Linked DNA regions of Homo sapiens. The protein of the gene in region 1 purifies or fractionates together with the protein of each later gene. This does not show direct contact. Each region holds a gene or a part of one and is shown on either strand. Other genes may lie near its edges.

What was found.
Region 2: the proteins of CELA3A (region 1) and GALNT1 purify together in Homo sapiens (affinity purification with mass spectrometry; one large-scale study listed by BioGRID and IntAct). This does not show direct contact.

Annotation. Positions count from the first base shown.
Region 1 is NC_000001.11:22,004,622-22,008,277, forward strand, and holds part of CELA3A (chymotrypsin-like elastase family member 3A preproprotein), read left to right. Parts: intron 1-825; coding exon 826-923; intron 924-1,040; coding exon 1,041-1,175; intron 1,176-2,256; coding exon 2,257-2,393; intron 2,394-2,751; coding exon 2,752-2,894; intron 2,895-3,656. UniProt on the Homo sapiens protein: Efficient protease with alanine specificity but only little elastolytic activity.
Region 2 is NC_000018.10:35,682,647-35,686,302, reverse strand, and holds part of GALNT1 (polypeptide N-acetylgalactosaminyltransferase 1), read right to left. Parts: intron 2,913-3,656; coding exon 2,705-2,912; intron 237-2,704; exon of another isoform or gene 1-236. UniProt on the Homo sapiens protein: Catalyzes the initial reaction in O-linked oligosaccharide biosynthesis, the transfer of an N-acetyl-D-galactosamine residue to a serine or threonine residue on the protein receptor.

The DNA of each region.
Region 1 (3,656 bases):
ACATCTTTATTACAAAAACAGACCAGAAGCCTGATGTGCCCCACTGTCCACAGTTTGCTAACCCTGGTCTAGATGGAGCTTTTGAAAATCAGAATGTGTAGGAAATGGGAAGAGAGGCAAAGAACTCATCAGGGTGAGCTGTGCTTCAGAAGGCTCAAGAGGCCTTGAAAGAGCTGAGGTTCAAAAGAGTCAGGGGGGCTGGGCGCGGTGGCTCACGCCTGTAATCCCAGCACTTCGGGAGGCCGAGGTGGGCAGATCACCTGAGGTGAGGAGCTCGAGACCAGCCTGGCCAACATGGTGAAACTCCGTGTCTACTAAAAATACAAAATTAGCCAGGCACGACGGCAGGTGCCTGTAATCCCGGTTACTGTGGAGGCTGAGACAGGAGAATCGCTTGAACCCGGGAGGCGGAGGTTGAAATGAGCTGAGATTGCCACCATTGCACTCCAGCCTGGGGAACAAGAGCAAAACTCCATCTCAAAAAAAAAAAAAACTCACAGGGCGAGGGGTGCGTGATAGAACAGAGGGCCTTCAAGGGCTGTTAAGAGACAGAAGGTAGAGAATGTTGGGGTCCCCAGGGAGGTCATAGTGCTGGTGTGGGGAGGCTTTGGAGAATCAGAATGTGACCCCCATGGAAAAGTGATAGGGCCACCACGGGCAGCTGCCCAGGTCGCAGGTTGTATGCTGCATATTTCAGTGGGTGCTCTCGTTTTCCATGTGAATGGCGCCCTCTAGAGTTGCACAGTGCACAACCTATACAGCCATTGGTGGCAACTCTCATGGTGGGGCCCAGCCCACTGAGGCCCTTTCCTCCTGGGCCACCAGGTTTCCCTGCAGTATGAGAAAAGTGGAAGCTTCTACCACACGTGTGGCGGTAGCCTCATCGCCCCCGATTGGGTTGTGACTGCCGGCCACTGCATCTCGTGAGTTCTCTACCCTGTCCCTGCCTGTGGCCCTGGGCAGCGGGGGAGAGTGGGTGATGATGGGGAAGGAGGGAGGTGAGCCAGTCAGGCCCCGACTGACCTCACCTCTGCCTGCAGGAGGGATCTGACCTACCAGGTGGTGTTGGGTGAGTACAACCTTGCTGTGAAGGAGGGCCCCGAGCAGGTGATCCCCATCAACTCTGAGGAGCTGTTTGTGCATCCACTCTGGAACCGCTCGTGTGTGGCCTGTGGGTGAGTGAATGCTCCGGTCTGGAACCCAGGGGCTCCTCTACTTGTCCCTCCATGACCCACAGCCAAGTCTGAGTAGGCTCCAACTCTGAGTAGGGACGTAGGGACATAGGGACATAGGGACAGGGGAGCTGAGTCCAGCAGCCTGTGCCCAGGTCCCACACACTGAGGATTGAAGCCAGCAGAGCCTTTAAGGACCATCACCACCAAACCTGTCTCCCTACAGAGGGGATGGCAGTGTTCAGGGAGGGGCAGGAACTCTGCCAAGGCCACTTGGCTAGTGGCTTCAGAGCTCAGGGTTCCTCTGGCATCCTTCCCCCATATCCGAGGGTTTCTCCATTCAATAGATGGCTCACCCAGTGCATCCTGGGCTCCCAGCACTATGGGCAAAAGGAGGAGCACTGGGCTGAGAGTCAGGCTCTGGCATTAACTCTGTGTATGGCCTGAGCAAGTCACTGGCCTTCTCTGGGCCTTAGTTTTGCCATTTGTCAAAAGGTGACCATGAAGTTGGGCTTCCTGGGTGGTGTGAAGGCCAAGGAGACAATCTTATGCCTTTCAAGTGTATGAAAAAATCTTAACAAATATTAGCCAGGCGTGGTGGCATGAGCCTGTAATCCCAGCTACTGGAAAGGCTGAGGCAGGAGAATCACTTGAACTCGGGAGGCGGAGGCTGCAGTGAGCCAAGATCATGCCACTGCACTCCAGCCTGGGCAACAGAGCGAGACTCTGACTCAAAAATAAATAAATGAATAAATAAAATTCCTCAGCCTTAAGAACGATTTGGGCCAGGTATAGTGGCTCATGCCTGTAATTCCAGCACTTCAGGAGGTGAAAGCAGGAGGATCCCTTGGCCCAGGAGGCTGCAGTGAGCTATGATTGTGACACTGCACTCCAGCCTGGGCAACAGACCGAGACTCTGTCTCAATAATAATAATAATAATAATAATAATGATGATGAAAGAGTGGATTTGGAGGGTAAAGAAGTTGGGGCATCTCAGAGGTGGAATAGCCTGGAGCAACGGCTAGAAGGTAGGACTTGGGCCGGCTGGAGGACCAGGCCCCGTGACTGTTCCCTCCTCCCCAGCAATGACATCGCCCTCATCAAGCTCTCACGCAGCGCCCAGCTGGGAGATGCCGTCCAGCTCGCCTCACTCCCTCCCGCTGGTGACATCCTTCCCAACAAGACACCCTGCTACATCACCGGCTGGGGCCGTCTCTATAGTACGTGCTGACTTCTCTAGCTGGCCACAGAGACAGTGGCAGAAAGACAGGGCCTGGGGGCTGCAGGTTGAAGGTAACACCAAGACCGGACCTTGTACTTTTCTCCCATTTCTCTCCAGCTGCAGCCTTCTTCCATCAACCTCCAAAACACGAATGTGGTCAATTGCACATGTTTTGGTATCTTCTGTGTGCCACGTGCTAGGGATGTAATGGTGCACAAAGCATGCAGGACCATTTAGCGGGTGGGAGGAGAGTCCTCATCAGGGCAGAAGAACTGTGGGCCTTGAATGCCCCCTTCCTCTGGGGCACCTAGCGGTGTGCCCCCAGACCCCTGACTCGGTGCTTTTTATCCTTGCAGCCAATGGGCCACTCCCAGACAAGCTGCAGCAGGCCCGGCTGCCCGTGGTGGACTATAAGCACTGCTCCAGGTGGAACTGGTGGGGTTCCACCGTGAAGAAAACCATGGTGTGTGCTGGAGGGTACATCCGCTCCGGCTGCAACGTGAGTCAGCTCTTACCTGCCCGAGGTGGTGCTGGGTGTGCAGGACCTTGGAATGGGGCCAACTGCCTGGAAGGTGGAGGAAGGATCTTGCCTGCTTGCCCCATTCAGCCTCCAGGCCAGGCAGGACTTGGAGGAAATCAGCGCAGTCCAGACACAGAGCCCAGGCCTGGGAGTCAGGACCCCCGGGTTGCAGTCTCAGCTCACACACTGACATGACTTGGGACAAGTCACTGTGTCTCCCTGGTCCTCAGGCTTCCGCATCAGCACAGCAGGAGATACTGGTCCCATGACCTCTAACGCAGGTCAATTCTGTGGTTCTAAAGTTATAATTAACCATTAAGAATACCATCATTGTTCTGGGCACAGTCCCTCCTGCCTATAATCCAAGTGCTTTGGGAGGCTGAGGTGGGAGGATTGCTTGAGGCTAGGAGTTTGAGACCAGCCTAGGTAATATAGTGAGATGCCCATCTACAGAAAAACTTTTTTTACTTAGTCAGGCATGGTGGCACTCGCCTGTAGTCCCAACTACTTGATAGGCTGAGGTGGGAGGATTGTTTGAGCCTGGGAGTTCAAGCTCACAGTGGCTATGATTTTTGCCACTGCACCCAAGCCTGGCGACACAGCAAGACGTTGTCTCTTTTTTTTTTTTTTTTGAGACAGGATCTTGCTCTGTTGCCCAGGCTGGAGTGCAGTAATGCCATCATAGCCCACTGTAGCCTTGCCCTCCTGGGCTCAAGCAACCCTCCAATGTCAGCCTCCCAA
Region 2 (3,656 bases), on another chromosome or scaffold:
ATGCACTGAATTTATATATGAATTTGGGTAGAATTGATACTCTTATGATATTGACTTTCCTATCCATTTCTCTCTCAAGATTTTTTCGTGAATTTCAGTAAATCTTTTGATAAACATATTCCTATGTGTAGTCTATGACTGCCATTGCTATTACGAATGGTATCTTTTCTTTTTGCATTATATTTTCTAAGTATTCCTTGTTGGTGTGAAATAAACTTTTCATTCTTTTGTTTGGAGATGGAGTCTCACTCCTGTTGCCCAGGCTAGAGGGCAATGGTGCACTCTTGGCTCATTGCAGCCTTGACTTCCTGAGTTCAAGCGATCCTCCCGACTCAGCCTCCCAAGTAGTTGGGACTATAGGCATGCACCACCACGACTGCCTAATTTTTTGTATTTTTAGTAGAGCTGGGGTTTCGCCATGTTGGCCAGACTGGTCTCGAACTCCTGGGTTCAAGTGATCTGCCCACCTCGGTCTCCCAAAGAGCTGGGATTACAGGCGTGAGCCACTGCTCTAGCCTGAACTTTTCTATAGTAATCTCGTGTTTGGCAACATTGCTAAATTCTTATTGTTTCTATTATTTTATGTATAGATTCGTTTTCTTCACAAACACATACACAATTGACAACAATGCTTTTCCTTTTTCCAATAAATAAATGTTCTTTATTTACTGTAGTACTGCAAAACCTAAGAAAGACTTCTAATAATACTAACTGGTGATTGAGGGCATTAACATCTTCTTCCACATCTTTTTAAAAAATGCTTCCAACATTTCTCCATTAACATGATTTCTGCTTGCAAAGGCTTTTTTTTTTTTTTTAAGCCATCCTTTCTTGGATTAGTAAACTTCCACTGTATAATAGTTTGCTAAGTATTTTCTAACAATAAATTCATGTTAAATTTCAGTGAACCCTTTTTCATTATCTATGGGAGTGATCAGAGGTGTTTAATAAGTTTGTAATCACAGTTTTAAAAATACATTAATGGGATGTATTAAACGAATTAGTTTTTGTAATATTACGCTAAACCAAGCAGTCATGATATCATGATATGTTTTTTACACGCATACGTGCACGTGTGTGTGTGTATATTGCTGGTTTAGTTTGCTGGTATTGTGAGATTTTTGTACTAGCATTCATGAACAGATTTGCACTGTAATTTTCCTTGTAGTACTTTTCTGGTTTTCATATCACAGTTATACCAGCCTCATAAAAAGAGTTTGGTTCGTTTCCTCTTTTTCTATATTGTTTACAAATTCTTAGGGGAGATTTGTTTCCCCTCTGCCACTGCATACCAAGGTTGAGACAGGCAAGTTTTCTCTGATGTGGTGGGATTAATTTTTCATTCTTGCTTTATACTAAGATACAGATTTCAAGAGCCCAGCTTTATACAGGTGTTTGCTATTAACCTTCTCACCTGAGGCAGGACCTAGGTTTTTGTCTCCTATCCTTCCATCTTATTTGTCTCTCAAGGCAGAAGCTTAGTGACCCCAAAGTTCAGCAGAAACCCTACCAGCGAAAGCTGGCTTTAGTGTTTGGACTGCACATTTGCTCTCACTTCTTTTCGAGATTTGCAAATTTCTTCCTTTTGTGCCAACTCAATGATGCATTTAAAATTTGTTTTGTCTTTTATCCAGCTTTTTCAGTTGGAAAAGTTATTCAGAATATCGAATCCACCATGCAGCCCAAACTGGAAGTCACTGTGGTTGCTATTTCAGCTGACTCCCTTCCATACTTCTGTCATCACCTCACCTTGCTTTCTCTCTATGGGTTGTGTGTTATCTTCAGGCGAGCAAATATTCCCTAAAACGTCATCTATTATTTAAAGAAAATAATTTACAGATATCCTATTCTTTTGATTCTTCAGGGCAATGTTCTCTTTTCTAAAGCTGCTCTACTTTCCCATTGATTGGCCCAATGCTGAGTTTTCCTATTTATTCATCTTTGAAAGGGAAAAAATATAGATCCAGCATTTGCTATCAAACAGAATAGATGCTGTGGCTTTAGCTCCCACCGTGTTCCACTTGACTAGTAAAAGTTCACTCCACTAAAATCTAAACATGGACAGTCTCTACCTCAAATTACAATGACAAGCAGAAATTCAACCAACATAGGTCTAGCAGACTGAAGTCAGGTTCTCTCCTGATGCACAAGAACTAAGCCAGAAATAGGGAGTTCTTTGAAAAATGTGTAACATGAAAAACTATAACCACAGGTGTTCATTACACCACTGTTCTTCCTGTATTATCTAAGATTATGGTGCTTTCCATACAAAATTAAGCATTTCAGGACACAATGTGCTTCTCTCCATTCTCTTCTACTTCTTGCTGCACTACAAGCTGAGAGGATCTGCCTGCTCCAGCATTAGCTTTAGAGTGCAAGGACAAGTGAAGGGTTTTATGCTGTCTTCCCTGAGTTCACCATCTATCTGTTCTGCTCCAGCTTGGTGAACACAGCATATAGTATACATTCCAATGACATGCTTCCTAATCACTCCTCATTAGTACAACAGTTTGCAAACATTCCTGCCAGGCTTCAGAATGTGGTCTTCTGGATATTTCCTTTAGAGTCCTCTTCACGGATATTTTAAAGCAAACTTGGGAGGAAATTACTTTTATATTTATTTAAAAAATATAGAATTTGGCAACTCACCATATAGTTTAGGACAAATGTACTAAAAGCAAACTTACAGACACCAGAAAATTACCTGTCATGTTTGATCCTGGCCAAGAGAGGCTCCAGCCATCCCACTGTACACTCACAATGGGCATCCAGGAAGGTGATCACTTGGCCTTTAGACACAGCAGCTCCTTTTAATCTAGCTCTGATCAATCCAGAACGTTGTTCCATTCGAATTACATGAACTGGTACTTTTAGTTTTTTCACATAACTCTCTAAAGGCCTTTTCAAAAAGTCTGGAAAATGAACAAAAGAAAACATGCAAACCAGTGTGGCCTGGCACTATTCAGATGAAAGTAATTTTGATTTGGAAAATTTATTCAACATACCCTTACTGAACACTCTCAGTGAGGCTCCCTGACTCATAAACCCATTCTGCTAAAGGAAGCCTTTATATTCCCCAAGAGAATGGACTACAGCTGCCTCTATTTTATTATATGCAGAATTAGGAGAATGCCTTTGTGCTCAGACTTAACCAAGGATAGGAATGCTCCTATGTTTCGCTAAGTAACTCTGTTAGACTCAATTCTTTCTCTAATCATGCTTAAGGATCAGCAATACAAAGAAAGCATTAAATCCAGACCTCAACAGAGAGAAGACACAGAATATGTAATAGCTGTAGAGTTCAGAAAATTGTGAAATTTCCTCAGAAGCACAAACAAATTGTCTTGTTGATTACCATGGTCTTTGACTATACTTTTTTTTTTTTTTTTTTTTTAATCAGGGGGCAGAAAGTGGGGTCACACTTGGAAAAGAAATGCTGGACTGTTAACTGCAAGGCCAAATAGAGATCCTTAAACTGACAATTAGGTGTAAGAAAAAAAGTTTAAAAAGGAAAGGGCAATTGAAGAAGAAAAGAGAAAAAGTGGGCAAAAGGGGAAAGGGAGAGTATGTGGGTGTATGAAATCAATAGCTATCCTGGAGAGTTCAGATAAGAGGTTATGCTCCTCAGGACACAGGCAAGCATATAGGATAAGATA